5 linked regions of the Homo sapiens genome follow. The protein of the gene in region 5 purifies or fractionates together with the protein of the main gene of each other region. This does not show direct contact. Each region holds a gene or a part of one and is shown on either strand. Other genes may lie near its edges.

Region 1 (5,793 bases), on a different chromosome or scaffold from region 5:
CTGGGCAGCGGTAGACCAGTGATACCTTAGATAGTACTGGGCCATTTATACTGTTGCTGTTCTCTAGGATCCTTGTCTAGAAGAGCCTCATCCTGGGTTTCTGACCTCTGTCTCCTAGTTACCATTTAACCTGATCTTCCTGAACATTATCTTAGGTTCCAGCCAGCTCTTCCTTGACACAGTTAACTTCTTAAAATAAACTTTTTTTTTTTTTTTAAGACAAGGTCTTGCTCTGTTGTCCAGGCTAGAATGCAGTGGCGTGACTATGGCTCATGGCAGCCTCAACCTCCCAGGCTCAGGTGATCCTCCCACTTCAGCCTCCCAAGTAGCTGGGACTACAGGCACGTGCCATCACGCCTGCCTAATTTTCACATTTTTGTAGGGACATGGTCTCGCTATGTTGGCAAGGCTGGTCTTGAACTCCTGGGCTTCCCACTTTGGCCTCCCCAAGTGTTGGGATTATAGGCATAAGCCACTGCGCCTGGCTGATATAACTTTAGGTTCACCCTAGCTGGTGAAACTTTTCGGCCTGGTTCCAAATGACCTTAAGGCAATTCTCCGTTGCAGACCTGGCTTCAACACCCTTCTCTGTCTTGCCTCCACTCTGAATATCCCTGGTTCTTTGCTAGGGCTCGGCTTTAAGAGTCCCTCTTGATCTTTGGCATCATTGTAGCCCAGGACCCAGATGGGACTCCAGTGGTTCCAACATACCCTGTAGCCTCACACTGCCCCACAAACTCTCAGATTTCTCTGTCTCCCCAGACCACCCTGCACATATCTCAACTAGCTCAACTTTCTCTTTTTAAAAAAGATTACCCATCTCTGTTAGTTGAAAGAGGGTCTACAAACATATTTTCTTTTTCTGCTGGGTATGGCAAGGAGAAGTCATTTTGTCTTCCAACCACTAGTCTTTTACCATTTCCTAAGGTGTTATAAGGATCAATGGGTTAATATGTAAAGTGCTTAGAAGAGAGCCTGGCACATGGTTTTTGCTGAGTATTTGCTTTCACTGTTACTATTCCATTATTATTTTTGATTATTATTAAATAATAATTATTGTTTTTATTTTAATGTTTTAATTATTAAATAATTACTATTTTTAATTATTATTCCATTATTACTACTTTCACTGTTACTATTTCCATAATGTTACTATTCCATTATCATTTACTTTTGCCCAGGGTCTTGGTCCTCTCTTATTCCAAGCCTCTGGAGTGATTTTCAAACTGAATGCCTATGGGATAAATGTTCTGCCCTCAAAGCTCCCCACTTGGGGCTCCAACCTTACAGGTGTGGGTCTGCCTGGGTTCCTTGCTCCCAGCCACCGCCCTCTTCTCCATCATCCCCACCCCAACTTCTCTCATGCTGATTTCATGAAGCTCTCTCCTTGCTGTTTTTTCTTTCTGCTTGAAGCACAGCTCACCGTCACAGGTCATGGCTGTACAGACCCAATTTCCACAGGCACAGACACAGCGGTTACAGTCCACCTCGGTCTCAGCTCCATCTGCATACGTTTCATCCTCCAGGGCACACTCTGTTGGGCCAGAAATACGGGGCAACAGTTTAGCTGTGAGGGTGGAACAGGGCATCTTTGCTACAGTCTGTGCACCTTACCCTTTTTTCCCAGACAAGACCTGCCTGTCCCTCAGAAGCACTATATCTGAGCAAACACTACCATCAACCTAAAGAATGTGGGGCCCTAACTTCACCATGGGGAGAATGGGCTGGGGCCCAGTTTAGAATCATGGAAGGGGATTTTCTCAGCTAGCTCTGGAGAGTTCCACCAATCCTCTCTATCTTGGCTCCTACAAAATGCCTCCATTCACTACAGCTCTCTATTTCTTAGGTTAGGCATACTCTTCTCAGGAGGGTTGAAAGATGGGTTGAGGCACTTGAGAAACTCTTGGAAGCTGAGTTTCCAATCAGCATTTTCATCAGACAGTTCAATGAGAGCATCAACACAGAGTCCCCTGAAACAAAACACAGGAGAAATGTGTTAGCAAGACCTCAGCTTCGCTCAGAAGAAAGGAAGTAAGCATCAGGACCACATACACCCAGGGCCTCCACAGGAGGCCAAGAAGATGACTGCTAACTAAAACAGCCTCTCTCTACACTGACCCAACACAACTATTATCCATCCTGACCAATGCAGGCATCTAACCTTTAGTTTGTTATATGAATGTCAGATCACCCAGGCTGTCCAAATGTTCCCCCCCTTAAGATGACTAAAGTTTCGTGAATGGTTTTGTCTAATGTTTTCACTGCCTGCATACCTTCCACTAGCAATTGCTTTTCCCCATGGTATATACACGTCAAGTCAACCAAACTAGGAAAATCAAAACAGAAGAGATATGACAGATGACATGAAAGGAATATAGGATTTGAAAGAATATGAAGTTCAAGCAAGAATCACCATTATCATCCTTCTAGAAAGAGATTTTCAGAAAAGCTTTTAGAACTCAGCTCCATCAGCTTGCAGTGAGCCGAGATCCCGCCACTGCACTCCAGCCTGGGCGACAGAGCGAGACTCCGTCTCAAAAAAAAAAAAAAAAAAAAAAAACAAAAACAAAACAAAACAAAAACAAAAACAAAAAAAAACAAAAAACAAAACAAACAAAAAAAAACTCAGCTCCATCACTTCTTTCTTGGGCTGTATTTGAGCCCTGGCTCAATCACTTACTACTCAAATGGACTTGAGTTAGTTATTCAACTTTTCTGAGCCTGTCTTCCCATCCGTAAAAGGAGGACAAGAAGCCCTCCTTCACTGGGATATCATGAGGCTCAAACGTTGAAATTATAAAACATATAATTTCAGATTATCAAAATATGAAGGATTTACAGAACCTATACTTTAAGGTCATAGACTATTATTAAAGAAGAATCCTTCTAGAAACTGTGCAATGCACTTCTTTTGAAAAAAAGACATGCTTTTCCTATTTTTAATTCTTACCGATGTGCTGAAACCACATCAAAAGTTTCTTAGCGATTAGTTTTTATTAATATTGATTCTGGAATAATGCCATAAAAGTAGACGGGCATATATCTGTAACAGTTAGGGCAATTGACATGAAATAGCACTAATTATCTAAAAATCAGAACAAAGCTATTTTAGACCTATAGTTAAATAATACATTACTGTAATTCCTTCAGAAAATTAATCAGTAAAACATCACCCACAACATTCAGAAATAACTTGCTCTGACGTGCCCTTGGCAATTTATTTTAAAATTATATTCTTCTAGTCCTTGCAAGTTCTGACCAAAAACAATAACTATTTGATTAGATATCAGTGGTACTCAATATATTAATTCATACTTTCATAGAATAGAACAGGACAGAATTCCCATTTTGCTTTTTACGTGACATTCTCTCACTGGTGGCTCTTTTGCAGGTGGGAAAGGGTTTAAGTCCCCTCTCTCAGTTAGTCTTCCCTTGTGGATCATTCTCTGACCTCTCGGTTCCTCTCACCTAAGCAACTTGTTGTTCTCCTGGTCTGGATACGTTGTAATATTGATGGCAGTTTCATTCTGTTCCACAAACTTCAGGAATTCACTGGAGTCCAGGCGAGAATCACCATTATCAAAGTTCTAGAAAGGGCATGACAAGATCGTTCAGGGATGTTTTGCAGAACCCCTGTTCCATCATTACTCCACTCAGCTGACCTGCCTCTGATTCATCTTGTTCTTGATACATTCCAACCCTGCCCTGACCTCAGAGGGCCTTGGCAACAAATGCTCTAATCCCTGGGACATGCAGAGAAGGTACCTGTGCCCACAATGAGAGAGGAAAAGTGCCTGGGCAGAGGAGGCAACCTGAACTGAGGCCTCTGGGGTCCCTAAGCATGCTGTGTGGCCCCATCTCTGACACTGCCCTGTAGACACTTTTGACTATACCTTTGGGTTCAGACCAACCTGCACATCATGTTCTCAAGCCCTGATGAACATGTAACAAGAGTTTAAAGTTGCACGCTGTGAATCAGAATCTCTGTAGCAGGTCCCAGAATATGTTTCTAATGAGCTGCTCAGGAACAGCAGCAATGCAGATGACCCTCTGAGCTCACTTTGGAATTATAGGATTCCAAATCTTGTTGCTTGATTCCAGCCTCCTTGTCCTGTTCTCAGTGCTTAACTTTCACTTTGGTGCCCGTAACTGATCACATCAGTGAGAACTCAGGCAAAGGCCTCAAAGCAATAAGCTACAGACAGGGGTCATCATGCAAAGTTCCCGCTCCTCTGCCCTGTGGGCCCCACTGCAGATGTGTGCACAGGTCCTCAGATCATCCAGCTCAGGCTGCCCTCATGACCCAGCTGGCATCCCACAAGCACAAAGTGAGGAGTGCAGTAAGCTCACACACTGTTCTCTATGGCAAGATGCTAAACTGAGACCTCAGCCATCTGGGACCATTCAAGACACCCAGGCACTAGCTGCAGGAGGAGGGTGTCAAATCAAGACTGATCAAATTCCAAGTTGCATATGGCTGCTCTCCTAACAAATTTCAATAACATTTTCCCCCTTCCTCCCAAATCCTTTCCCTAGGCTCCCTCATGCTGCTGCCCTGGGAAAGGATCAGCTTCCCCATGTTACTTTCAAGATGGCTCCCCAGATGGTGCAAGGGATTCTGGAAGAAACATCTATCCAAATTTCTAGATAGAAGGGGAAGATGTAGCTAACAACTCTCCTCTCCTGCTTGCCATGTGTCACAGGTGTTCCACTCTAATGTTGTATAATGAAGGTGTGCATGAAACAACTATTAGGCCTTTGCTTAGTACGTACTTATCATTCTTGTCCTAATTCCTAGGAACAGGTCTCTGATGTCCTTTATTCACTATACAATTTTCCCTGACGAAACTTCCCTGTTTACCTTGTGAAGTCTTGATTAATTAATGGAAAATAATTAAATAAGTTTGGCTGGGGGCCATTGTTAGTAGCACAGGGCTTTCTTGAGTTCAAATATTGCATGTGCTGGGTAAATGACAGCAACCCTCAAAGACTCCAGTGTCATCAGGGCCTGATGATGGAATGAGTGTAGGGAGGGGAAACGTCCAGCACTAGCTACAGACCCAGTGCCACATGGCCCAAGTGGGCACCATGAACCTGGCAACCACAGTCCAGGCAGCTCTCAAAAGGCAGTGCTGTGTACACACACTTCAGTAGGACTAGAATAAGGCCTGCAGCTGGGGGAAGGTCCAGCCCATGTGCTTTCTCAACTCATGAGGGTCCAGTTGGGCCTCCCCAGGCCAGAGTTGTATGTAGAATCCACAGGAACACAGAATTCTGGTGCCTGCCCCAGAAATAGCCTGGAATGCCTGGGGGGTCTGCCTGTGAGGTCCTAATCATGGACCATGAACCAACCTAATTTATTGAGCCTCTCTTCAGCCAGTCAGTTACAAAGACATAATATCTCTCTGTGCCTCTTTCCCCAGCTCTATACAGGTTGATTATCCCTTATCTGAAATGCTTGGGACCAGAAGTGTTTCAGATTTCAGATTTTGGAAAGTTTAAATATGTATAATGAGATATCTTGGGGATGGGATCCAAATGTAAACATGAAATTCATCCCTGTTTCCTATATACCTTACACATATAGCCTGAAGGTAATTTTATACAATAGTTTAAATCATTTTGTGCATGAAACAAAGTTTTGACTGTGTTTTGAATGCTACCCATCACATGAATTCAGGTGTGAAATTTTCCACTTATGGCATCATGTTGGTGCTCAAAAAGTTTCAGATTTCAGCATTTGAGGTAACAAAACTTTTCCTCTATCTAACTGTAGGGTTGTGGAAAGGCAGA
Region 2 (6,272 bases), on a different chromosome or scaffold from region 5:
TAATCCTAGCTACTTGGGAGGCTGAGGCAGGAGAATCGCTTGAACCCGGGACGCAGAGGTTGCAGTGAGCCAAGATCGTGCCAACGCACTCCAGCCTGGGCAAAAGAGCAAGACTCCATCTTAAAAAAAAAAAGTTTAATCTGTCTGCCTCTAAGACCCTTTCTCCACAGAGTGCTCAAGAAGAATTGTAAAGTGTCAGATACTGAACTGCACAGTATTATATTTTAACTTTCTGTCAGATAACATTAAGAAGAAACAGTAATAACAATAATGATGACATGACTCCCCCTCCCCTCATCAAATACCCTGGATACAACAATGTCCTTTTAAGATATTAAAAAGGCCAGGCCTGTGGCTCACACCTATAATCCCAGCACTTTGGGAGCCTGAGGTGGGAGGATCACTTGAGTCCAGGAGTTCAAGACCAGTCTGGGCAACATAGTGAGACCCCGTCTCTACAAAAAATACCAAAACAAGTAGTGGGGCTTAGTGGCTCACGCCTGTGGTCCTAGCTACTTGGGAGGCACTTGGGAGGACTGCTTGAGCCCAAGAGGCTGAGGCTGCAGTGAACTGTGATTGAACCACTGCACTCCTGCCTGGGCAACAGAGAGAGACCCTGTCACCAAAAAAAAAAATAAATAAAAAAAATAAAAATTATTTTCATTGAATAAAAGACTTTCTAAATGTGAGAACGTTATGTTTGTAAAGGCTAAGTTGTTTCCTTTTAAGCCTGGGGGAGGACAGGAGTAGAAATAACCAAGCAAGGCACACTTCTCATTAGGTATATTAACGTTGATGTTTGAGTTGACATTTGTTGAATTTTTTTTTTCAGAATGGTGCTTCAATTCATGTTTCAAAAGCAGACACAGAAATAATTTCCAGAGAAATGAGCTGGGGGAAAACAGAAATGTGTATGGAATTGGAACAAAATAAACCTGATTTTTTTCAACATTGTATAGAATTGTTCTGAGGTTAAAAAGAAAGGTTTCTAAAAAATAAATATCTAACAAAAGCTGCACAAAGATTAGGCATACATTATCCATGGAGACATTAAAAACTATTAAAAAGGTTTTTTTACCCCACCTCATCCCCTGGTATGTTTGAGGAAAGCATCTGGAAATTCTAACTCAAAATCATCTAAGGGAATCAATGTAAAACAGACACCATTCCATCCCCTTTCATCCTTCTTAATACACCTCAGCCTCTCCCTTGACTAGATAAAAACGTAATTTTCCCTCTCCCAAATACAGTGCAAAACAAAAACTCTTCTGTGAATGGAGAGACATGGATATGGGGTAGAGGTGGAGACTTGCCTACATTACCAGCAGCCAGCCGAAAATGCCCTGTGTGTGTAAAATATGTTCCTTCAAAGGGGCATTGTGAGCACTAAATATAATTTGTGCCAAAAATAATAATGAAAGCTTAGTGAATACTCTACAGTGCAGGCATCGTTACATTTAATCCACAAAACTACCCCATGAGGTAGATATTTACCGTTCTTTTCACTTAACATCTTTTTTAAAAAGCGGAAAACAGAATGATGAATTAACTTGTCCATGGTCATAAAACTGATAGGTAGTGGCACCAGGATTTGGGGACCATCGGGCAGAGGATCTTCCAAAACCGGCTTTTAAAGAGCCACAAAAAGATGTAGCCGGGTTCTTGGCACTACAGTACTGCTTTATAAACAACAGTTCCCTTCTTTTCTCTTAGAGCCCAGTGGGAATCTAGAGGGACACCTTACATAAAGGAAAATGACTGCAACCTGGACCTGTCACTCGACAAATACTGCCTCTCCCCACCTCACTTCACCTGACGTCTCTGCCCAACCGAAGGCAGCTCTCAGAAAACCGCACAGAGGTTACCACCCCAGAAATTCTGAGATCCTAGGAGGTAGCAATGCAAATAGACAAAGCACAGTATTGCTTTGGATCGAAAATATTTGTTTGCTCATCCTAACTCCAATTCCCCTAGCCTAGAACAAACATAGCCCTTCCGCACTCAGGAAATCCCAAGAGGTCAGGTTCAGTCTGGTAAACAACACTGTCCGGGCACCTTGCAGAACACTGGGGACTGTGACGGGCGGCGACAAATTGGCACAAGAGAGACTGAAATGCACAGGGACACCAGCCTAGTGGCCGTGAAAACTCAAGTTGACACTTCCAGGGAGGGAATGGGGGAGGTGGAGCCCAATTCCTGCTTCTGGAGAGAGTAAGAGACTTCCTCCATCCTCCTTCTCCCTCCTCCTCCTCCAAGGCACGCTGAGATTTGGAGCGGAGGAGCTGAGCCCCGCGGGAAAAGCAGAAAAGGGTCATTGCCACTTTAAATGACTCAGGAAGTAAAAGGAGGCCTCCTGACGGGGAAAGGGAAAGTGGAACCGGGGCGGCGCGGGGGCCGGCGGCTGCCGCGATCTCTCCCTGGTAGCGGGAGGCTGAGCGGGCGGCGCGACGCGGGGGCCGACGGGGGCGCCGGGTGGCCGCGCCGGAAGTGCCTTGCGCGGCAGAGGAAGCGCAGGGACAGAGCGGAGCAGGCCGAGCCGGCGGAAAGGGTCTTTGCTGCTGCGCCCGGGCAGGGGCTGCCGCGGCCCCAGGTCCCGCTTCGAGACGCGGCGCGGTCCAGGCGGGAGGCGACTCCCTAGGAAGGGACCCGGGGCGGGAGGAGGAAGTGAGGCCGCGCGGAAGGAAGGCGGCGAGCCCCGGGGCCCCGAGGCCTTGGCCGCGTCACAGCACCCACATGGCCTCTGGAGTGGGCGCGGCCTTCGAGGAACTGCCTCACGACGGCACGTGTGACGAGTGCGAGCCCGACGAGGCTCCGGGGGCCGAGGAAGTGTGCCGAGAATGCGGCTTCTGCTACTGCCGCCGCCATGCCGAGGCGCACAGGCAGAAGTTCCTCAGTCACCATCTGGCCGAATACGTCCACGGCTCCCAGGCCTGGACCCCGCCAGCTGACGGAGAGGGGGCGGGGAAGGAAGAAGCGGAGGTCAAGGTGGAGCAGGAGAGGGAGATAGAAAGCGAGGCAGGGGAAGAGAGTGAGTCGGAGGAAGAGAGCGAGTCAGAGGAAGAGAGCGAGACAGAGGAAGAGAGTGAGGATGAGAGCGATGAGGAGAGTGAAGAAGACAGCGAGGAAGAAATGGAGGATGAGCAAGAAAGCGAGGCCGAAGAAGACAACCAAGAAGAAGGGGAATCCGAGGCGGAGGGAGAAACTGAGGCAGAAAGTGAATTTGACCCAGAAATAGAAATGGAAGCAGAGAGAGTGGCCAAGAGGAAGTGTCCGGACCATGGGCTTGATTTGAGTACCTATTGCCAGGAAGATAGGCAGCTCATCTGTGTCCTGTGTCCAGTCATTGGGGCTCACCAGGGCCACCAACTCTCCACCCTAGACGAAGCCTTTGAAGAATTAAGAGTAAGTATTGGGCCTTCAGAGCATAAACCTAGGGGTCAGGACACCTGGGTTTCAACTCAGGTGGCCTGGCTGTGACCACATTCGCTTTCACTGTGTCCCTAAGAAGCTAGTCTTTCCAACTTTTTGGGAGCAGTTCTTATTCACCGTTTTTGGTTGAACTCTTTTGAGAATCTGATGAAAGTTCTGGACTCTGACCTGAGAAAATACACACAAAATCTAGTATACAATTTCTAGAAAATTGCAAGTTTCTGGTCTGTGGATCCCAGGTAAAGCATTTCTTGGGAGTTTTGACCCCACTTAGGCCAATTTCCACAGCATCACTATTGTTGAAACTGGTGCTTTGTGCTAGGGCTCTTGATAAGGCAATCTTTTTGCCTACTTGAAAACATGGGAAATAGGATTTTGCCACATGAATCCAAGCAAGTGATACGTCTGCATTGAAAAGACTAACAAAATAGTTTTAATAGTAACTTCATATGTGCCCCGAGTTCATTTTAGATTCTTCGTGTTTGAAACTTAGTAGAAAAGGAGGGTAAGAAGATGGAGGCCAAATTGGGGTGGGAGTGGAAGTTCCCATGTCCTCTGTCTGGATCTTTGTCTGTCGTGGACCTTACTGGTCCCCCAGAACAGTGGACACTTCGGAAATATTTGTTGAATGAATGAATTTGCAGACGATGCACCTTTTATTCATATTGTGGATGTTTACTATCATTGAGAGAAACTGCTGGTGTTAATCGGGGAGGGAGGGGGAAATTTTGAGTGGAGTGATCAGTTCATTAAGTAATCTGTATTAGTGAACATTGTCATATTATGATGACTTTTGCTTCCCTGAATAGGGAATAGCTGGCATTGGGATAACAAATACCTTGAGAGTGAAGATCCTCTGTATTAGGTTTTCCCTTTTTTAGTGCCTATTTATAATTGTAAAATGCACATTCAGAAAGTGTGTAAAAACTTACAGTCTAACAAATAATTATAAAACAAGTACTGAGGTAGTCTCCATCCAGATTAAGAAATAGAACATTACTAGCAATATTGAAGCCTTTTCCCCATACCTTTTCCAATTATAACCATCTCTCTTCTGCATAAGTAAGCATAATCTTGACTTCTGTGATCATTTCCTTGCTTACCTTTATGCTTTTACTCCATGTGTATGCATTCCTAAACTTATTTGAACTTGACACTATGGGTGTCATATTTTTATCATGCATTCTTCTGGGTTTTGCTTCATTTTCTCAACATTGTGTTTGTGAGAGTCATCCTATGAGTGACTGTAGTTTATTCACTTTCATTACTATTTCGAATTCCATTTTATGAATATGCCACAAGTTATCTATTCTGTCATAGATGGTCATTTGATTTGTTCCCAGGTTTGGGAGCGTCGGGCTGTTACAAACAATGTCAGTGTAAATATTCTTGGTCATGTCTCGGTGTACATTTAACATACATTTAAGTGGAATATAAACGCAGGAGTGAAATTGCTGTGTCAGAGGCTATGCATATCTTCAGTAATACTACATGTTGCCAACTATTTTCCAGAGTGGTTGTACCAGTTTGAATCACTATGAAGAGTATATGAGAGTTCCTGTTGCTCTGTATCTTCAAAACTTGCTATTACTGTATTTTTCATTTTTGTCAATCTTGTGGCTATGTAATGGTATTTTATTGTGGTTTTAATTTTCATTCCTCTGATTACTAATGACTTTGAGGATCTTTTATACTTCCTCTGTGAAGTACCTAGTCAGTTCTTTTGCCCATTTTTCTATTGAGTTGTCTTTTCTCATTATATGAGTTTTTATATATCTGTTTTTTTTTTTTTTTTTTTTTTTTTTGAGATAGAGTCTTGCTCTGTTGCCCAGGCTGGAGTACAGTGGCTAGATCTCAGCTCACTGGAACCTGCGCCTCCCAGGTTCAAACGATTCTCCTGCCTCAGCCATCTGAGTAGCTGGGATTACAGGCACATGCCACAATGCCTAGCTAATTTTTGTATTTTTTTTTTAGTAGAGATGTTTTTGCCATGTTGACCAGGCTGGTCTTGAACTCCTGACCTCAGGTGATCTGCCTGCCAAAGTGTTGGGATTATAGGTGTTAGCCACTGTGCCCAGCTATATATTTGTTTCTGATTTTTTTTGTTGTTCTTTCTATGTGGGTTGCAAATATCTTCTATGTGGTTTTTCTTTTTAAAGAAGTTGTGCCTTGAATAGAAGCTCTTCATTTTAATGTGGTAAAACTTATCAATACTTTTCCTTATGGTTAGTGCTTTTTGTGTCTTGTTCTACTTAGTATTGATTTTTGTGTAGTAGAAGTAGGGGCGCAATTTCATTTTTTCTCCATACAGATGGCCAATTGCTATTGCTGTATTTATTGAAAAGCCCTTCCTTTGTGCACTGATTTGCTGTCCCACTGTCATATATCAAGTGCCCATAATATGTGTGAATGTGTTTCTTGGTTCTTCTGTTCTCTACTGTTTATCTGTTAGTATATCCCTGTGTGAACAGCATGTTTTCTCAGTTATCCCTTTATAATATGTCTTAATATCTGGTAAAGCAGGTCCTTCCATCTTGTCCTACAAGAGTGTGTTGGCCAGTTTTGGCACTTTACATTTCTTAGAATCATAGTATTAAAAAGCCTGCAGGAGTGTATTTGGATATTAAATTTATAAGCCAATATAGGGAGAATTAATATCATTACAACATGAAGTCTTCTGATTCATTAATTTAGGTCTTTTTTATTGCTTCGCAGTTAAGTTTTATATTTTTTTCCTCAAAGATTTTTCACATCATTGTAAAATTTATTCCTAGATACTTCATAATTTTATAATATTGTAGAAAATATGAGCCAGGCACAGTGGCTCACACCTGTCAGCTATA
Region 3 (5,793 bases), on a different chromosome or scaffold from region 5:
CCCCAAGCGGGCAGCAGGACTGTGCAGCACAGCACAATATGCTGAGCCCGGTGGCTCCCAAGCCCCTGAGGAGACTGAGCAGGGATGAAAATGCCCTCAGGCAAATTTGACTGTAAAATCCACTGGGGAGGTGGAGGTCCAGGCTGCTTCTGCAGGATGAGAACAGGCATTACTAACACAGAATCAGGAATGAGGACAGTTCTTTTCCAGTTCTCTTTCCTCCCCCACTGCATCAAGGATCAAATAAGTCCTCAGGTTGGCACTGGTGTCTCCACACTAATCTCCATTTAGAGCAACCCCAGGTTAAGAGCTTTCAACAGGCAGCAGTATCTAGCTAAAACTTCAGTCATGTTTTGGGGCCGGGCGTGGTGGCTCATGCCTATAATCCCAGCACTTTGGGAGGCCAAGGTGGGTGCATCACATGAGGCCAGGAGTTTGAGGCCAGCCTGGCCAACATGGTGAAACCCCGTCTCTAATAAAAAATATATAAAGTTAGCCAGACGTGGTTGTGGTGTCAGGCACTTGTTTTTTTTGGTGTGTGTGTTTTTTGTGTGTTTTTTTTTTTTTTTGAGACAGAGTCTCGCTCTGTCGCCAGGCTGGAGTGCTGGAGGGCAGTGGCACAATCTCGGTTCACTGCAGCCTCCGCTTCCCGGGTTCAAGTGATTATCCTACCTCAGCCTCCCGGGTAGCTGGGACTACAGGTGCCCGCCACCACGCCCGGCTAATTTTTCATATTTTTAGTAGAGATGGGGTTTCACCATGTTGGCCAGGATGGTCTCGATCTCTTGACCTCATGATCCACCCGCCTCAGCCTCCCAAAGTGCTGGGATTACAGGTGTGAGCCATCATGCCCGGCCGGTGTCAGGCATTTGTAATCCCAGCTACTCGGGAGGCTGAGGCAGGAGAATCGCTTGAACCTGGGAGGTGGAGGTTGCAGTGAGCCGGGATCACACCACTTACTGCACTCCAGCCTGGGCAACAGAGTGAGACTTTGTCTCAAAAATAAATAATAAATCATGGCTTGGTTTTCATATTTATTTTGAGATAAAATTTAAAATAATAAATATGAGGTGGAACTAAAAAAACAAGTTAGTACAGGTTACTACTTGTAAGCATAGGTGAGACTCAGATTCCAGGTTTGGAAATTCTAGCATGACAGGAAGAGTGCTCAACTGAGTCTTTTTTATTTTATTTTTTGTAGAGATGGGAGCAGGGGCAGGGGTTCCCCATGTTGCCAAGGCTGGTCTCCAGCTCAAGTGATCCGCCCTTTGCTTTGGCCTCCCAAAGTGCTGCAATTACAGGCATGAGCCATCGCACCCAGACAAGTCTTTTTTTTTTTTTCTGAGACGGAGTCTCACTCTGTCACCCAGGCTGGAGTGCAGTGGCGCGATCAAGCTCCGCCTCCCGGGTTCATGCCATTCTCCTGCTTCAGCCTAGTAGCTGGGACTACAAACGCCCGCCACAACGCCCAGCTAATTTTTTTTGTATTTTTAGTAGAGATGGGGTTTTACCATGTTAGCCAAGATGGACCTCATGATCCGCCCACCTCGGCCTCCCAAAATATTGGGATTACAGGCGTGAGCCACCGTGCCTGGCCTTTTTTTTTTTCTTAAAGGACTTTTCCATAGGCCACACAGGTCAGGGAGGCATACGAGGCAGAACAGGTGGGACGGGCATGGCATGCTCTAAATGAGTGTGGTGTGGCGCATAGCAGGCACGAGGACCCTGGGTGGTCTGCGCTGAAGCTATAAACTAAAGGTATGGCAGATGTGAGAGAGGAGGAGTCTAGAGTTCATCCTGGACACGAGGGGTCAGAGAAGTTTCTAGTTGGGGAGAGGCATCTGTGTAACAGACAGCCCCACATGGGTGCAGGGACTGGCAGCCTGATGTAACCTACCACATCCAGACATGTGTCAGGCCAGGCAGCACAACCCCAGCTGCCTGGGCACTCACCCCGCTGGTGCAGCCGAGCAAAGGGCTGGAAGTGCCGAGCATAGCTGAGGGCCTCCAGCTGCTTCGCGGGGCCTCCTGCCAAGAGGCGGATGAAGTGCAGTCGGTGCAGCTTGAACTCCAGGGAGCTGTTGAGTTCCAGCAGGCGCTGCCTGTGGGAGACGGCCCATCTGGGAAGAAAGGGGCCAGTTTAGTGTAGAGCTGGTGGGGGCTAGGACCTGAGAGCCAGCACCTGAGAGGAGGGCCCCAAAAGCCTGTGTGAGGCTCTTGAGACAGGGCTGCAGGCAAGTCAAGTACATCTGGGTGAAATGAAGACCACAGTCAAGCCCTGTGCCCTGAGAGGTCGAAGCAGAATGCTGCTGGCCCACCCAAGGGCCTCCTTACTCCAACGCAGGACCCAGGTCTTGTTCGTGCAGGGCTTCCAGGATTCGATTCAACTCTAGGAAAGGCTGCTTGAAATCCAAGTCCACATTCAGCGTTGATTCCTACAAGGAGAGAGAGAAGAGATCCCACCACTGGAAGATGGTGTTTCCAAAGTTCTCTGCTATGCACATAATAAAAGCTCACCCGCCAAAGACAGGCCAGAGAGCTGGGCTTTGCTTGAGGAGCTTGGTCTCCTGCCAGCCACTTGGGCCTCTCTTGTTCCCATCTCAGTCCTGGGGAGGCTGAGTATGACATGCTGACCTCGAGTGCAGACTGCAGACCCCACCCCACAACCGTAGCAGTGGAGACAGTCCCCAGGCTACGCACTGAGTTGCATGGCGAGAAAATTACTCCTCTTCAATCCTCCTAGTACAGTAGGGAAAATCTTTTACTTTTACCACCAGTGTGTCTTTAACACCTAACAAGTACTACTTTGTCATTTCACTCAGCTCCCTTTTCAATAAAGGGATATGAGGCCTCAGCTCAGAGCCCTGGCTGGCAACCAACTCTAACTAAAAATGAGTAACTTCTCTTTTCATCATATATGTTTTTAAAGCTACCTTCTGCTTCTGGCAGAGGTGCTGATTTCCTTTAGGAAATAAATGGATTTGAGAATGGTAGGGACTTCATACAGTGAAAACTAGCAGGTGAAAGGCAGAGCAGGCAGGTTGTTGCGCCCGCCCAGCCCGACTGTACCTGGCACAGCTCCTCGGCCACGCTGAGCATGCCCTGCTGATACAGGTGTTCCACGATGGCCATCTGCAGGATCTGCTGCTGCTGTTCCCGCGCGTCCCACACCGCATCTGACACAACACCACAGATCTCAGAGTCGAAGTTCTGACGAAGGAGGAGAGACAGGGCCTGGTGATGCGGGCACTCTTGCTGGCTCTCCTTCGAGTCCTTGTACATCCCAGCTTCAGGGTGCTCCCACCCCACGCCTGGAGCCGGCCACGTGCTCACCCTGTCAATGGCTTTGCCCACTCGGGATACACTGCTGTGAATGTCCTTATGGTCCGAAGCCAGTTTCTGCACCGTATCTTTGATCTTCCGGCAGCACTGTGACATCACCAGAGAGAGGGTGGCTGAGAGAGGGGTCCCCTGGAGGGCTGCAGAGAAAGTGGAATAAGGACACAGAGGAGGCAGACTGGGGCACCTGCCTTGGCAGCAGACCTTAGCTCTATTCTAAATGCCAGCCCCGTAGCCCAGGAGGCAGCCCTGAATGCCAGGGTGAAAGAACTAGCTTCTCTTCCAGGTCCTGCCACTTTTTAACTGTCTGACTTGGAACTGCTCAAATGGGAAAAGCCAGTTCACCTCTGGGAGCCTTCATTTCCTCATCTGTGAAATTACTGGTTGCTGTGAAATGAAGATGATCTGGCACTTACTATGGGTCAAGTGTTTATTTCAACTCATGGACTACAGCATGCATAGGATTCTGTTTAACTGCCAGGTTAGACCTAGAGTTACCACCTGATCCAGCAGTTCCACTCCGAAGGATATACCAGAAGAAATAAAAACATATGTCCACACAAAAACTTGTAAGTGAATATTTATAGCAGCAATATTTATAATAGCCAGAAGGTGGAAACAACCCAAATGTCCATCAGCTAGTGGAAAAACATGGCACATCCCTACAGTGGACTATTATTCAGCCATAGAAAGGAATGAAGTGCTGATACAGGCTACAGCATAGATGAGCCTTGAAAACATTCTATTAATCAAAGAAGCCGGACACAAAAGGCTACATGTGGTATGATTCCTTGTATATGAACTGTCCAAAATAGGCAAATCTATAGAGACAAAAAAGAGATTAGTGGTTGCCAGAGGCTAGGGAGAGGGAGGAAATGGAGAGACAGTCAATGGGTTAGGTTTCTTTTGGGGGTGATGAAAATGTTCTGAAATTAGATAGTGGTGAAGATTGTACAACTCTGTAAATATGCTGAAAACCGCTGAGTTGGACTTTATTTTTTAAATTTTCATCTATGTATGTATGTATTTATTTATTTTGAGACCGAGTTATGAGACTGGCTAATACCTGTATTTTTGGTAGACAGGGTTACCATATTACCCAGACTGGTCTCAAACTCCCGGACTCAAGCAATCTACCCGCCTCAAGTTCCCAAAGTGCTGGGATTACAGACATAAGCCACCATGCCCATCCAGAGTTGTACTTTATTTATTTATTTTGATACAGAGTCTTGCTCTGTCACCCAGGCTGGAGTGCAGTGACTTAATCTTGGCTCACTGCAACCTCTGCCTCCTGGGTTCAAGCGATTCTCCTGCCTCAGCCTCTTGAGTAGCTGGGATTACAGGTACATGACACCACGCCCAGCTAATTTTTGTATTTTTTAGTACAGACAGGGTTTCACCATGTTGGCCAGGCTGGTCTCGAACTCCTGACCTTAGGTGATCCACCTGCCTCAGCCTCCCAAAGTGCTGGGATTACAGGCATGAGCCACTGCACCTGGACAGAGTACTTTAAAAGAGTGAGTTTAATGGTAAGTGAATTATAGCTCAATTTTTAAAAAAGACATAGGAACCAGGGACTCCCTCTGGTCAGACCTAAGACAATTTGAACATTAAATAACTGCAATGGATTATAACCTATTGAATAAAATAAGAATATGAGTGTGAAGTGATAATAATGAAAGGAGAAGGGAAAGCTTCTTTTCAGTTGAATGTCAACTAATAAATGTATAAAGAATGACAAAGCAGGAAAAATCACCATGTTGCAGACAGCTTAGTAATAATTCACACAACAATCATTAATGGATACTAAAACTAGTAGGCTGAAATTTGGTAAAGAGCAGGACATTTATATGGTATCAAAGTATCTCCCCACAAACTACTTTTTTTTTTTTTTTGAGACAGTCTCGCTTTGTCACCCATGCTGGAATGCAGTGGCGCGATCTTGGCTCGCTGCAACCTCCACCTCCTGGGTTCAAGCGATTCTCATGCCTCAGCCTCCCAAGTAGCTGGGACTACAGGCATGTGCCACCATGCCCGGCTAATTTTTGTATTTTTAGTAGAGATGTGGTTTTGCCATGTTGACCAGCCTGGTCTCAACCTCCTGGGCTCGAGTGATCCGCCCGCCTCAGCCTCCCAAAGTGCTAGGATTACAGCCCACAAACTACTTAGTGATTACAAAGAAAAATTAGGAAGTTTACAGTGGAAAACCTTAGCAGCGACCATCTTAACTAAGTGATCAAAGTGAAGATCAGGCCAGGTGCAGCGGATCATAATCCCAGCACTTTGGGAGGCTGACACGGGAGGATCACTTGAACCCAGGAGTTCGACACCGTCTTGGACAGCATAGGGAGACCCTGTCTCTACAATAAAAAAAAAAAAAAATTAGCAGGGCCTGGTAGTGTACTGCTGTGGTCCCAGCTACTTCTGAGGCTGAGGTGGTAGGATCACTTGAGC
Region 4 (5,793 bases), on a different chromosome or scaffold from region 5:
AACAGCAGGCAGTTCTGGGGGAGTAATGAGAATAATATCGCCCAAAAGACTTAGCTCAGAAGTCACATCCTATACTCTGAAGTATTCTTCACACTTAACCAAGAAAAATTTTTAGCTGGACTAGGTCACAAAATCCCCCAAACTAAGAAAATCATTAGAAGTCCTGAGATTGGTGAGATAAAACAGACATTAATTTACTACTGATTTCTTGGTGAATGCAACACATTTTCCATCAGTATTAGTCCACACAGAACCCATGAGCAAATCAGGAAAAAGCAGCTCCTTTGGGCAGCTACACCTCAGTGAGCACATGGCTATGAGTGGAACTGCAGCTGAATTCCAACATCCTCTTACTGACTCAAGTAGGCAAACTCATGCAGGGTGTAATCTGAACAACTAGACATGGAGATCCTATTTATACAGATCTCTCTCTTTAGTGCTTTACAAATAGTAAGACAAAAGTGATATAACTAGAACTTTTATCTATAGCCATGACATAGTAGGATTGTGTCATAGTGAGATTGTAAAATTGTCTACAGCAAATACCAGGTTAAATTTAGGTGATCATGAAATATTACTTGATGAAGACTTCTTGTAATAATGTCATCAGAGAGCAACCAAGAAAAGCGTCTCTCCTTGCGGTCACTACCAGGAGAGGGGAATACTTACCACCATCTTCAACTGCAAAATAGAACATATCACTTGTGGCATTAGCCCCTTCTCTTAAGACATAGCATATTTTCATGTCATCAATGTCAGCTAGAAAATAACCAAAAAACAAGATGATTAATTACCAGAGTAAAATTGATGATTCATTATGGTAAATTTTATTGGCTATTAGTTTTCCTATAAACATGTTTAAATTCCTTTTTCCTCCTAACAGAAACAGTGCTGTCTTATTTCTCAGATCTCTAAGCCCCTAGATTTCAGCTGTCCCATGGACACCTGATCCCTCACACAGATAAATACAGTGCAAGAGTTAGTTTATAATAATAGCAAGGTGTTTCCCCTCCCAGTGGTATTTGCATGTTCATGCACCAAAGGAATGACTGTCTAAATATGGAATGTCAGGCACCATGACAGGTGGAAAGGAAGATATTTTGAGGCATGGCAGATTTCCTGGCACTCTTGAAATCACATCCTTTGCCTCCCAGTAGGGAACTGGCCCGCAGAGGACAGAGCTTTGCTCCCCAACACTGGCTAACTTTTCTTACTTTTTGTGCTGTAGCAGGCTATTTTTTAAGCTCTCCAAAGTTTGAGAGAAAAAAATAAGATGATATTTTCAAAAAATCACACACATTGAAATAACTGATGACTCCCTGTTGAGAACAAAAAACATCTAATAAAAGTGGAAACGGGCTGGACACGGTGGCTCATGCGTATAATCCCAGCACTTTGGGAGGCTGAGGCAGGTGGATTATGTGAGGTCAGGAGTTCAAGACCAGCCTGGCCAACATGGTGAAACCCTGTCTCTATTAAAAATTGGCTGGGTGTGGTGGTGCGTTCCTGTAATCCCAGCTATTCGGGAGGCTGAGGCAGGAGAATTGCTTGAGCCTGGGAGGCAAAGGTTGCAGTGAGCTGAGGTCGCACCACTGCACTCTAGCCTGGGCAAGAGAATGAGACCCTGTCTCAAAAAAAAAAAAAAAGTGGAAACCTTTATTCATGGCAGAAAGTTATATTGCCTCAGAAATGTTCCTTATGTTGTTTCCTACTTTATCAAATTCACATGCATACATTTGTTTTCATTATGAAGACACAATTTTTAAAACTTATTCATCCATCTTACCAGTTCCTTTCCTTAATGATGCCACACATACAACATAATAAGAAAAAAATCGTTTTGTTCTGTGATACTCATAATAGATCATTAATTGATCTGGGCCAATCAGTGAGTTTCTAAGACTACATAAAGTCAAGATCATGGCTAAAAATAGCTATGACAATGATAGGTAATATTTATCTGTCTAGTGTGTGTTCTATGGTTTTTTCATCTCCTAAAAGCTCTAGTAAGTTCATGCTATGGAATTCAAAGGCTTATAAAGAAGACAATGGCTTTATGAAATGTTAATCTCAAGTGAGGCAAGGCATTAGGATGGACCAATGATGCCACAAATTTCTATAGCTCCACTTTACAGATGTAAAATGTGTGGTCTACCCTGGCTCATAAAGTTTTGAAAGGTGACTCATTATTAGGAACACTTGCAGAATGGAAAATCTGATTTTATAGTTAATGGTACCCTCCTGCTAATAGAGGTATTTGGAGGTAAAACATGCCTAAGTCGCTTGATTCTCCCTTAGCACTTCATTTGTTTTTTAAAACAAAATATAGATATGTGGGTCTCACTATGTCGCCCAGGCTGGCCTCAAGCAATCCTCCCACATCAGCCTCCCAAAGTGCTATGATTATAGGTGTAAGCCACCTAGCCAGGCCCCATATTTCTAACTCTACTATAACTTTCCACACTTGCTGCCTAGTTTCACTTTTATCTTTCTGTATGGTTATCTTTCCCAGTAGATGAAAAACTTCTGGGATTTTTTTTTCCTATCTTAACTTCCCACAGCTCTTTGCTTAGGATATTACAGTAGCAAAGGCGCAAATGTTTCTCAATTTAAAATGAAAAGGCTGAGTAGGTAGATCACACTTGTATCTCTACCTTTGCATGTATGATGTTTCTGCCAGGGTAAGAACTGAAGCCCCTACACAACTCTTTGCCTGTTTACTGTTATAATTCTTAATTGTATAACCTTCACTTTATCAGTAAAAAAATGCAGTAAACTCTGCTGACTACACATCTTTACCACAAGAACCATGACCTCTGGCCATGTGGAGAAGACCCTCTTCCAATGTTCCCACCCCTTCAAATTGCATAAGAAAATCTAAAGGCTCTACTAGGAGAAAAGGCACTGTTTAGCATGCCCAGCATCTGTATCAATGTTTTCTTAAGCGAAATTGTAATCGTTAAGGGATAGTTTCATTGAAATAAATCCTCACTTCAAAACAGAATTTTAAGAACTTTTCTTTTTTCAGATAAAGAAAACATAAATGCAACTATATGGCACTCTGGTACCCAATTTTCCCTCCAAGTTAGGGCATGTGTTATTGATTAGTTGGAACATACTAAAACCTTTTATATTTTTCATATAATTAATTAATAATTCATGGTTCAAAAAAGAGCCTCTAAAAAAAGTAAGTAAAGACTTTCATCATCATACTGGTATTCTAAAGGCACCTCTACAAATAACATAAACACACGTTACATATTTATGTATATATAAATGTAATAACGTCTAGCTTTCTTAAGACACAAAAGTAGTAGAAATATAATCTAATAGCCAAAATGTAATCTTTTTAAAGCAAATATCTAAGAATTATCTAGATTTTCTTCTAGTTGTTAAATATACATTAAATTTATTTCAGTTTATCTACAAAATTATTCCATGAGATTTTTTTGTTTGTTTGTTTTTAATTCTAAGTTCATTAACATATCAGGCAGCCACATCTGGTTCAAACTCTTTGAAGACATTTCTGCTTTCCTGAAACTGGCTTATAAATTATCCCACAGAATATATCATTACGTACTTATTGTAGGGAAGAAAAATCCAGGTACTTGAGACATGCAATTTAGATCTGGGTTAAGGGGAACAGGGGCAACTTGGCAAAGAGGTGAAGTTTGAAATAAATAAATGATATCCATAATTTACCTAATTATACATTGTTAACTTTTCATCAATTTAATAAGTTTTAGAAAGGAATTAATTTTTTTCTTCTAGGAACCATTTAGTCAATCAATTTAGGAATAACCTTCTCTAGCTACCTGTGCTAAACTGACCTAATTCAATGCATTGAAAATCCATCAAAATATAGGTTTACCTTATCCCTTCATGATAAAGCAAAAACAAAAAGAAATAAAAGGACTGCATAGTCTTCACTCTTAAGCACTGCTTTCATTTCTCCTAGTGGAAAAAGAGCCATGGTAGCTTTCTGATGGCGCTTTCTCCGTTTTTTAAATCACTTATCTAATCTCCATAAATAACAGCTACGGATCAAAGTCTAGCCTTGACTTGTTTGAATGAGTGCCATGTGATTGAATACCAACAGCTTCCCTAGTCAATATTTTGGTTTATATTGGAATGTGATAATTTTCCTTAAAAATTCTTAAAAAGTCACATCACATAATAAGCATAACTTCTCTACATTTACAAAGATGACAAAAATTAATCATGGTGACTCAAAGTCAGTAAGAGAAAGAACAACTGCCTATAATGAAATAGCATAATTTTTAGAGTTCAAAATTTCAGAAATAATATTCTAATATTGTGAGCTGTTGGACTTAGTCCACAGAATTTAAATTAAATCATTTGCCTGTCTTCATCAAAATAGTCCTTTTAAAAATCTCTAAATCAGATTTCTTTTTCAGGTCAGAGGAGTAATTTGAAGAACCATTTTCTATTATCTAATATATTCCTTTCATTCTCTTCCCTCTCCATGAAAATAAACCAGTGTAAGACGGCATGGCATCGCTAGCCTCAGAAAGCCTTCACATAAAAGTTTCCTACTGGTCTGGCATGACACTTGGCACTTTGAGGTTTTCCTGTCCCTGCAGGCCCTGGGAGACATTCAGGCTTTTAGCCAAGAATCAGGAGGTTGGAGTGTGGAGCTATTTGCCAGCACCTCAAACAGAGAAGTAGTCCACTTTAACAGTGCATTTTGCTACTTCCATGTTTATTAAAGCATTTGTTATCTAAGAGTACAACACAGTTGCAGGAAAAGAACACCCCCACTGGGATGCCCTGGGGTTAAGCTCCATCTCTACCCATGGATCCCACATAGGAAAGATCTAGTGTCCATTCTGACATGGTGAGATTTTCATGAAAGCAACCCAAATCCCACTGTAATGAAAGTTGCATGTTCTGCAGAACGGAGCCCTGACTCCCAAGCCAGTATAGTGAATGGGCTTCTCCCTTCCCTCACTAAATAACTCTGCATAGGACACTTGTCCTTTCTGCCTCAGATTGTGTCCACCCACAAAGGAAATTCAGGTTAGAAAAATCCTGTTGCCTAAAGACCGCAGGTGCCTGAAGCAACTGTTTTTTGTCACTGTGTTTGCAACAGGTCAGAGAGGAGGTTCACAATGATGAAATAATTTCCCCCTTCTAATATTAAGCTTGTCTACTTATCTTCATGCTCTTAATAATGAATTAGATGTATATTTTGGTGATGAACATATTGTTATTTTACACATCTTTAAGTATACTTTCCTTTTTCATGTATATCCTAGTAGCATGCCCTGTAAATATCATTGTTATAACTCTAGATAGGTGTTTATCAATTACGTCTCTGGATGAGTATTTGCCTGTCATGAAATATTATTAACAATTTTAAAAATCAACAAAGTAAATAAATGTAAACAAATCTTTTAGTTACAAAGTTCCTAACAACTATAACCGTGTCAGAGCAATGCTCTTAAAATTTATTCAAAGTAACCTAAGTTTGAAGGCTTTTTTGGAATGGTAATTGATAATGACAGCAATGTGAATAAACAGTATTTAGAAAGCACATCCTTCATTAAGGTGCCAAAATGCTTCATGAACCACCTGCAGCATACAACACAGAGGATGCGTTGGATAGGTATGGCAAATGGAGCAGAATTGGAAAGCCTGCTTCGATTTTAATTCACCAAAGTTCACCTCCTGCTTCGGCAGCCTATCCTTGCCACTTTCAAAATACATCAGTACTCCCTCTAATGAAGGCCACTGAGATGGGAGGTAGGACAAGAAGGGAGCTGTCCTCCT
Region 5 (6,535 bases):
CTTGTCCTGCCAGATAAATGACATCCTATAGAGTCACAGTATCAAAAATAGTAACGATAAAAGGCCAAATAAATGACCAATTAAATAAAATAGAAAGCTCAAACTTATCAGTAATGGTTATCCCACAAATTAGTGAGAAAAATAATTGATTAGTAGAAAGTGTTCAGAAAACTAGCTCCCTATGTAGAGAAAAAAAGACTTACTGAGAAAGTGAGGTAATATTCCTACCGAGACCAGAACTAAAAATTAGCCTAATAATTAAGGACTTAATGTGAAAAGTAAAACTGAAAAGTTAACAGAAGGACAGAAAAGGACCTCTAATACATAAGGCAAAACACTTACTGCTTAATTATATAAAAGTTAAGGCTTTCTGTCAAGCAACAGCAATAGACAGATGTCAAAATGGGAGAACATATTTGTGACATCTAAAACCAACAACTAGTTGTTACTGTATCTAGATTTGATTAACTCCTATAAACCAACTGGAAAATGATAACAATTCCAACAAGAATTGGGCAAAATATATAAACAGGAAATTTTAAGAGAAAATCCAAAAGGTTAACATGTATATGAAAAGATGTTCAGACCCAGAGCAAGTTAAAATAGAAATATAGTGTCATTTTACATCTATTACACTGGTAAAAGTTAATAACTGTATAATGCTAATTGTTGACATAGATATGAGGACACAGGATTGGTGGTGCAACTATACATTGGTGTAGTCACTCTGAAGAGCAATCTGATACTCCTCAGGCAAATTAAACATACACATACTTCATGACACAGCAATTCCACTCTAGATGTGTATCCCAGAAACACTTCTAGGTTCATAAGGGGACACATACAATGATGTTCATGGCAGTGTTATCTGTAGTGGTAGGGAGTTCAAGGCTACATAGGTTAGGTGTTCAAAACTGAATAAATCAGTAAAATGTGAGGAATGCACATGAGTATTATGCAGTAGTTAGAAGCAATGGACTAAATGTTCACATAGCAACAATAAGATATAGATCTTAAATGCCTTTTAGATATATCTTAAAACATATGAACAGGAAAGAATGCATAATTTGCAAAAACTTATAAAAACAAAAAATATATAATAAACACATTACAACAATTGCCAAGGAGAGGAGGAGAATGGGAGTGGAGAAAGGGGCTAAGTGAGGATAATCACCTTCTGTAAATTATAATTTACTTATGTTAATTGTCTATCTTTACTATTCTGTAGGCTTCATGAGGGTAGGAGCCTTCACCGTTTACTCTAACATCCCAATCACCAAGAAGAGTGCCTAACACATGATAGGTACTCAAATTTTGTTGAACTAATATATAAAGAGAAGGGCCCTTTACAGACTAGTTGTGATGATATCTGAAACATAAAGAAACAAAAAAAACAAGAATATGTGACATGAAGACTAAGAATATGGGAATATGATTAATCTAACTGGAATAGGGGTTACAGATTATGAAAAGCTGATTTTGAAACATTAATGATTTCACCTGGCACTAATATCTCGGAAGCACAATACTCAGTCGTAATTTAGAAATATGATGTCAACTTCATGGTGCCACATTACGGGGTAGGTCTTGGAGATACTGCCTCCACCTTCAGGGTCCATTAACAAGAAGCACACAATTACAGATTCAAGATATGTATAAGTAGCTTTGAAAAAAAGCATTTTTTAATAGCAGCGTAGCAAATTATATTTTTCTGTGTCAGACTCAAGTAGATCATCAGGATATTAAAATTTCAGACAACTGACTTGATCTAACACAACAACTTGTCCTGCTGGTAAAAGTGAAATAAAAAGTAATCAACTTTCCAGCCATATTCATATATAAAAATGATGTCATAATTATGTATTCTATATTAGAAACATATACATCTCTGCAACTTCTAAATTATTTCCTAGAAATTAACAGGACAGAATAAATGTCATCTTCCCTTATAGATTAATAATTTTTAAAATTATAATACAATTCATGTTGATAACCTAACCCATTTTTCCTTCCTCTACATATTTCAATACAACTGTGGTTTTACTGTTACATAGTATTTCCACTTCAGCAAACTGTCTTTTACATAGTTTCCATAGTAGCAGGTTTTGTGGGTATAACAATTTTCAAATATTTTCAGATACATTTTTATTTTCTACAAGTCTTGTTTCATTGCAGCTTCCTGCTCATTATTAATGACATTTATTCTTCCAGGGGAGTGTGAATAATACTTAAAACAAAAGGATCATTAACAAGCTGAGTTTTAAGGTTGAACATTTTTATTAAGAAAACTGTCTTTAGAGCACTTTGTTGAGAAAAGGCATTCCAACCTCTCTTTAAATAACAGCCTCAAGCTTGGAGGTCTAAAAATAAAATTTTGACTACAGTATTATAGCATAGGTAGTGAAAGCACAGTATTTGATGTGAGAGAAATGCCCACCCAACATAAAGCAGAAAGGGAAGGCTCTCCTTGCACTCCTGGGAGAAAAGAACAAGAAAGAGGAGTTTAAAAGAAAAAAAAAAGAGAGAGACAGACAGTAAACTGGACCTTGTTACTCAAAAGTGTGGGCCACGAACTAGCAGCACCTGGGAGCTAGTTAAAAACGAAAAATATCAGGCCCCACCCCAGGTCTACTAACTCAGAGTCGGTAAATTAACAGGATTCCCAAATGATTCATATGCACATTAAAGCGTGAGAGTCACTGAACTAAAGTAAAAGTAGAAGACTGGGGAGAGACACTTCCTTCATTATAACAGAAGGACAAGGTGAGGTTTGTATGTGGGTTAGTTTGATGGGTCGGTTTGAAAATGATCATGAATCAGTCTCATGGTTTCTGTCTTTAAAAGTTTTTATTCTTTCAGCAACAGTGACTTTATAAATTCTATTCATTCATTCCAAAAAAGCTAATGAGTGCCTACAATGTGCATTGTTTGACTTTTTTCAGTCCTCTACATTAGGGTCTCTTTTTGGCATGATAGTTTACTCATTTCCTTAATTTCAGAAATCTTCACTTTTACAAGATTTGTCCAAATCAAATCAACTGAATTACTGTAAAAGGCAGTAATCTTCTTCCTATGGATACACTATAAACAAAGTGCAATTTCTTTTAAAATGACAAATCATACTGGGACTAAAATGTCTTAGTCACAAAATGTAAAAACATAGTAAGATATACCAATGAATCTGGAACAAGAATATCCTTCCTGCAGACTGCTTGAAAGCATCAAGTATAAATTCAGCGCATATTAAACACATGCGATGTGCTAGGCCATCTGCTAAGCATTTCAGACAAAAATATGCATGAAATAGTCCCTATAATACAGTATGGTATATAGGGCTGACTTTATGGGACTGAAACCTATGTAGTCACACAGGCCTTGCATTTGGTTTAAATGTTCCTTTGTTGTTCTGAATAAATTTACCTTTGAAACTTTAAGTGAATGAAATACAAGTACGTAAACTCTTAAATGAAGCCTGATAGGAGAACGGACCAGGCCTATCTCCTGGTACGTGACCAGGGGATATGGACAAGTAAGGAAAACAGTTTTATATTTTACTACCTTTATTTTCATGGCCCTTTCCTGCTTTTTTGAACAAGGTACTCTGCATTTTTATCTTCTACAAGGTTGGGCTGATTCTGTAGCCAATGACGACAGTCAAATACAACTATGTGCTAGATACTGTGGTAGAAAGGACAATGGAGCCATTGGCCATGAAAAGGTCAATGATGACTTCACAGGGAAAATGATACTTAAGTTGGGCTTTGAAGGACAAAAAGGAGTTTGCCAGATGACTGGCACTCCAGAAAAGAACAACATTCTTACATAAATATGTAGACTTACAAGTGTACATTTATTTCCTCCAAGTTAAAAAAAAAAGCGCTTCATTGAAGTTTTGTATATTTTCAATACACTGTTTTTTACAATTTTTTAAAGAGCTGTGTACTAGGCACAAATTCCACTTCCTGGGGAAGCTCACCTTCTGGCAGAGCAAATGCAGGAATAAGAAATATACAGAGGTGAACAAACATGCCTTCGGTTTCGATTTTTACCTGGGTTTGTGCCTCTTCCCCGGGCCGGGGAAGCGGTTTGCGGGCTTTCGAACTGGTATGGGCTGTAGGCTTCGACCTTCTCCGAGGCCTGTGCAATCAACCGTGAGAAAGGGGTTTCCTCCTCGAAACGGAACTGGCTCCAGTTGGCATGGCCGCAGAGTTTTTCTATTTCTTTCACCAAGTACCTGCCGCACAGCTTCCTGGCACTGCTGATGTCGCTCAGTTCACGAGAAAACCGAACCAGCAGGAGTCCAAGCCACAGCAGGGACAAGCGGAGGAGCCGCGGCATCCCTGTGACCCCAGGCTAGTCCTCCGCGTTGTGCAATGGCGGTCGGCCGGACCCTGCTCCCTGTCTGCGCCTGCGCCAGGCCGAGCGGCGCGCACAAACACTGCGGAATTCCGAGCGCGTGGGGGCGTCGCCAGAACTTCAAGGGAAGGCGCGCGCCGGCTGCGTCAAGGCTTTCCCGCCAGCTCAGGGGTCTCAGGTGGTCGAAGGTAGCAGGCCCTGGCTCCTAAAATGAAAGCCAAAAATCCCCTCACTACCCCGCCACCCCCTAGTTTGATTCATTTTTCTTTCCTTCCTCAATGGGAGATTCCTCACCAAGCGTGAGAACATAGGATCCCTGTTACCTGATAACGTAGGTTAAAAAGTGTTGCTCCCTCCACCTGGAATGCGTTTCTCGTTCTTGTTTGCCAGGTTGTTAATAAAGCTTCGTCTCCCTCACAGAAACCCCCTGTCATCTCTTTCACGGTGTTAATCGACCTGTTTCCATTTGTGGGCGTGTAACCTCTTTCCTGAGACCCCCGCTTCATGAAGGCAAGGGCCTGCGTCTGTTCTTGCTTTCCATCGTACCCCGGGATCTGGCATTTAGCTGGCAATCAAATATGTGGTGAAACGTTTAAGTGTTGCATATGGCCATGTGCGTTTAGTCAGGTTCAAAGCTTCTTCAGAAAAATCCTACTGGTTCACAGGGAGGCATGGGCCTTAGCCTCAATCTCCAGAAAAAAGAAGTAGGGACGCTGTCTTGAGGTACCTGGGATGGAAATCTGGTTCTTTCGGTTAGATAATGTAGAGGATTGTGTATTACCAAATTAACTTGTGACAGGGACCCCTAGAGGATTTGCCTTGTAAGAATAACAGCATGCAGCATGAAATGCTCATTTAGGTGAGATAATTTTGCTCAGTTAGGAGGGAAGGGGCAGGGAAGCGAAGCGCAATCGGCATAGGTAGCTTTATCATTTTAAATGAAGTTCTGTGTTACTAGTGTGTTGGCGTGGAAGGATGTACTATCGGCCACAAGAGGGCATTCGGTGGCTGTCTCAGGAATAAGGTTCAGGATGCTGAAGCCACAGGTGCAAGCTTATCAGTGATCTCACCATTTCCCTATACAATTTTATTTTTTTCTCCCTTTCTTTTCTGTCTTCTGACTCTATGTCTTTTTCTTAATTTTCCGTTTCCCTATCTTTTCCCTGCTTCCCAGTGGCATCCATGAATGCTGTTAAATTAACTGCCAATTGGATTTTTTAAATGGTTGATATAATATAGATTAGTAAAATTTAATCACCTTCCTTAAAAAATAACTTATGTCCAAACTATAGTGGGCCATGAGTCCTAGTCAGAACTTTATCAGGTAAGGTTTTTGAGAACGGAAAATATTAATCATACTGAGATGAATGTAAGCCTTGTGGTAACCACAAGGCAAAACCTATAGTAGATATATAAAAGATAAAAAAGAAGAAATCAAGCATACCACTACAGGATATCATCTAATCACAAAGAGAACAAGAGAAAAAGAAAAGAACAAAGGATCTACAAAATAACCACTAAACAATTAACAAAATGCAGTAGTAAATTCTAACCCATCAATAACTACTTTGAATGTAAATGGATTATGTTCTTTGATCAAAAAACAGGGCTGAATGGATAAAAAAAAAAAGACTCAACTATATACTGCCCACAAGAGACTCATCAAAAGACTTGAACTATACTTTGGAACAAGTGGAGCTAACAGATATTTATGGGACATTCCATCCAACAGCAACAGAATACGCATTCTTCTAAAATGCACAGAGAACATTCACCAGAATAGATCATATGTTATGCTACAAAGCAAGTCCTAATAAATTTAGAAGAATAAAATAATATCAAATATCTTTTCTGGCCACAATGGAATGAAAGTAGAAATCAATAAAAGGAGGAACTTTTGAAAACTCACAAATATGTGGAAATTAAAGAACATGTTCCTAACTACCAGTGGGTCAAAGAAGAAATATAAAGGGAGTTTAAAAAATATCTTGAGACAGGCTGGGCTCAGTGGCTCATGCCTGTAATCCCAGCACTTTGGGAGGCTGAGGTGAGTGGATCACTTGAGGCCAAGAGCTCAAGACCAGCCTGGCCAACATGGTGAAACCCTGTCTCTACTAAAAATACGAAAAATTAGTCAGGTGTGGTGGCAGGCACCTGTAATCCCTGCTGCTCAGGAGGC

The links.
Region 1: the proteins of INSL6 (region 5) and FSTL1 purify together in Homo sapiens (affinity purification with mass spectrometry; one large-scale study listed by BioGRID and IntAct). This does not show direct contact.
Region 2: the proteins of INSL6 (region 5) and TRIM44 purify together in Homo sapiens (co-immunoprecipitation; one large-scale study listed by IntAct). This does not show direct contact.
Region 3: the proteins of INSL6 (region 5) and RMND5B purify together in Homo sapiens (affinity purification with mass spectrometry; one large-scale study listed by BioGRID and IntAct). This does not show direct contact.
Region 4: the proteins of INSL6 (region 5) and FREM2 purify together in Homo sapiens (affinity purification with mass spectrometry; one large-scale study listed by BioGRID and IntAct). This does not show direct contact.

What each region holds. Positions count from the first base shown.
Region 1 is NC_000003.12:120,401,385-120,407,177, forward strand, and holds part of FSTL1 (follistatin-related protein 1 precursor), read right to left. Parts: intron 3,588-5,793; coding exon 3,469-3,587; intron 1,971-3,468; coding exon 1,858-1,970; intron 1,535-1,857; coding exon 1,424-1,534; intron 1-1,423.
Region 2 is NC_000011.10:35,660,379-35,666,650, forward strand, and holds the start of TRIM44 (tripartite motif-containing protein 44), read left to right. Parts: upstream 1-2,396; 5' UTR 2,397-2,733; coding exon 2,734-3,402; intron 3,403-6,272. UniProt on the Homo sapiens protein: May play a role in the process of differentiation and maturation of neuronal cells. May regulate the activity of TRIM17. Is a negative regulator of PAX6 expression.
Region 3 is NC_000005.10:178,140,269-178,146,061, reverse strand, and holds part of RMND5B (E3 ubiquitin-protein transferase RMND5B), read right to left. Parts: intron 3,480-5,793; coding exon 3,334-3,479; intron 3,211-3,333; coding exon 3,070-3,210; intron 2,436-3,069; coding exon 2,335-2,435; intron 2,121-2,334; coding exon 1,954-2,120; intron 1-1,953. UniProt on the Homo sapiens protein: Core component of the CTLH E3 ubiquitin-protein ligase complex that selectively accepts ubiquitin from UBE2H and mediates ubiquitination and subsequent proteasomal degradation of the transcription factor HBP1.
Region 4 is NC_000013.11:38,692,664-38,698,456, reverse strand, and holds part of FREM2 (FRAS1-related extracellular matrix protein 2 precursor), read right to left. Parts: intron 760-5,793; coding exon 670-759; intron 1-669. UniProt on the Homo sapiens protein: Extracellular matrix protein required for maintenance of the integrity of the skin epithelium and for maintenance of renal epithelia. Required for epidermal adhesion. Involved in the development of eyelids and the anterior segment of the eyeballs.
Region 5 is NC_000009.12:5,181,265-5,187,799, forward strand, and holds the start of INSL6 (insulin-like peptide INSL6 precursor), read right to left. Parts: upstream 4,376-6,535; 5' UTR 4,339-4,375; coding exon 4,050-4,338; intron 1-4,049. UniProt on the Homo sapiens protein: May have a role in sperm development and fertilization.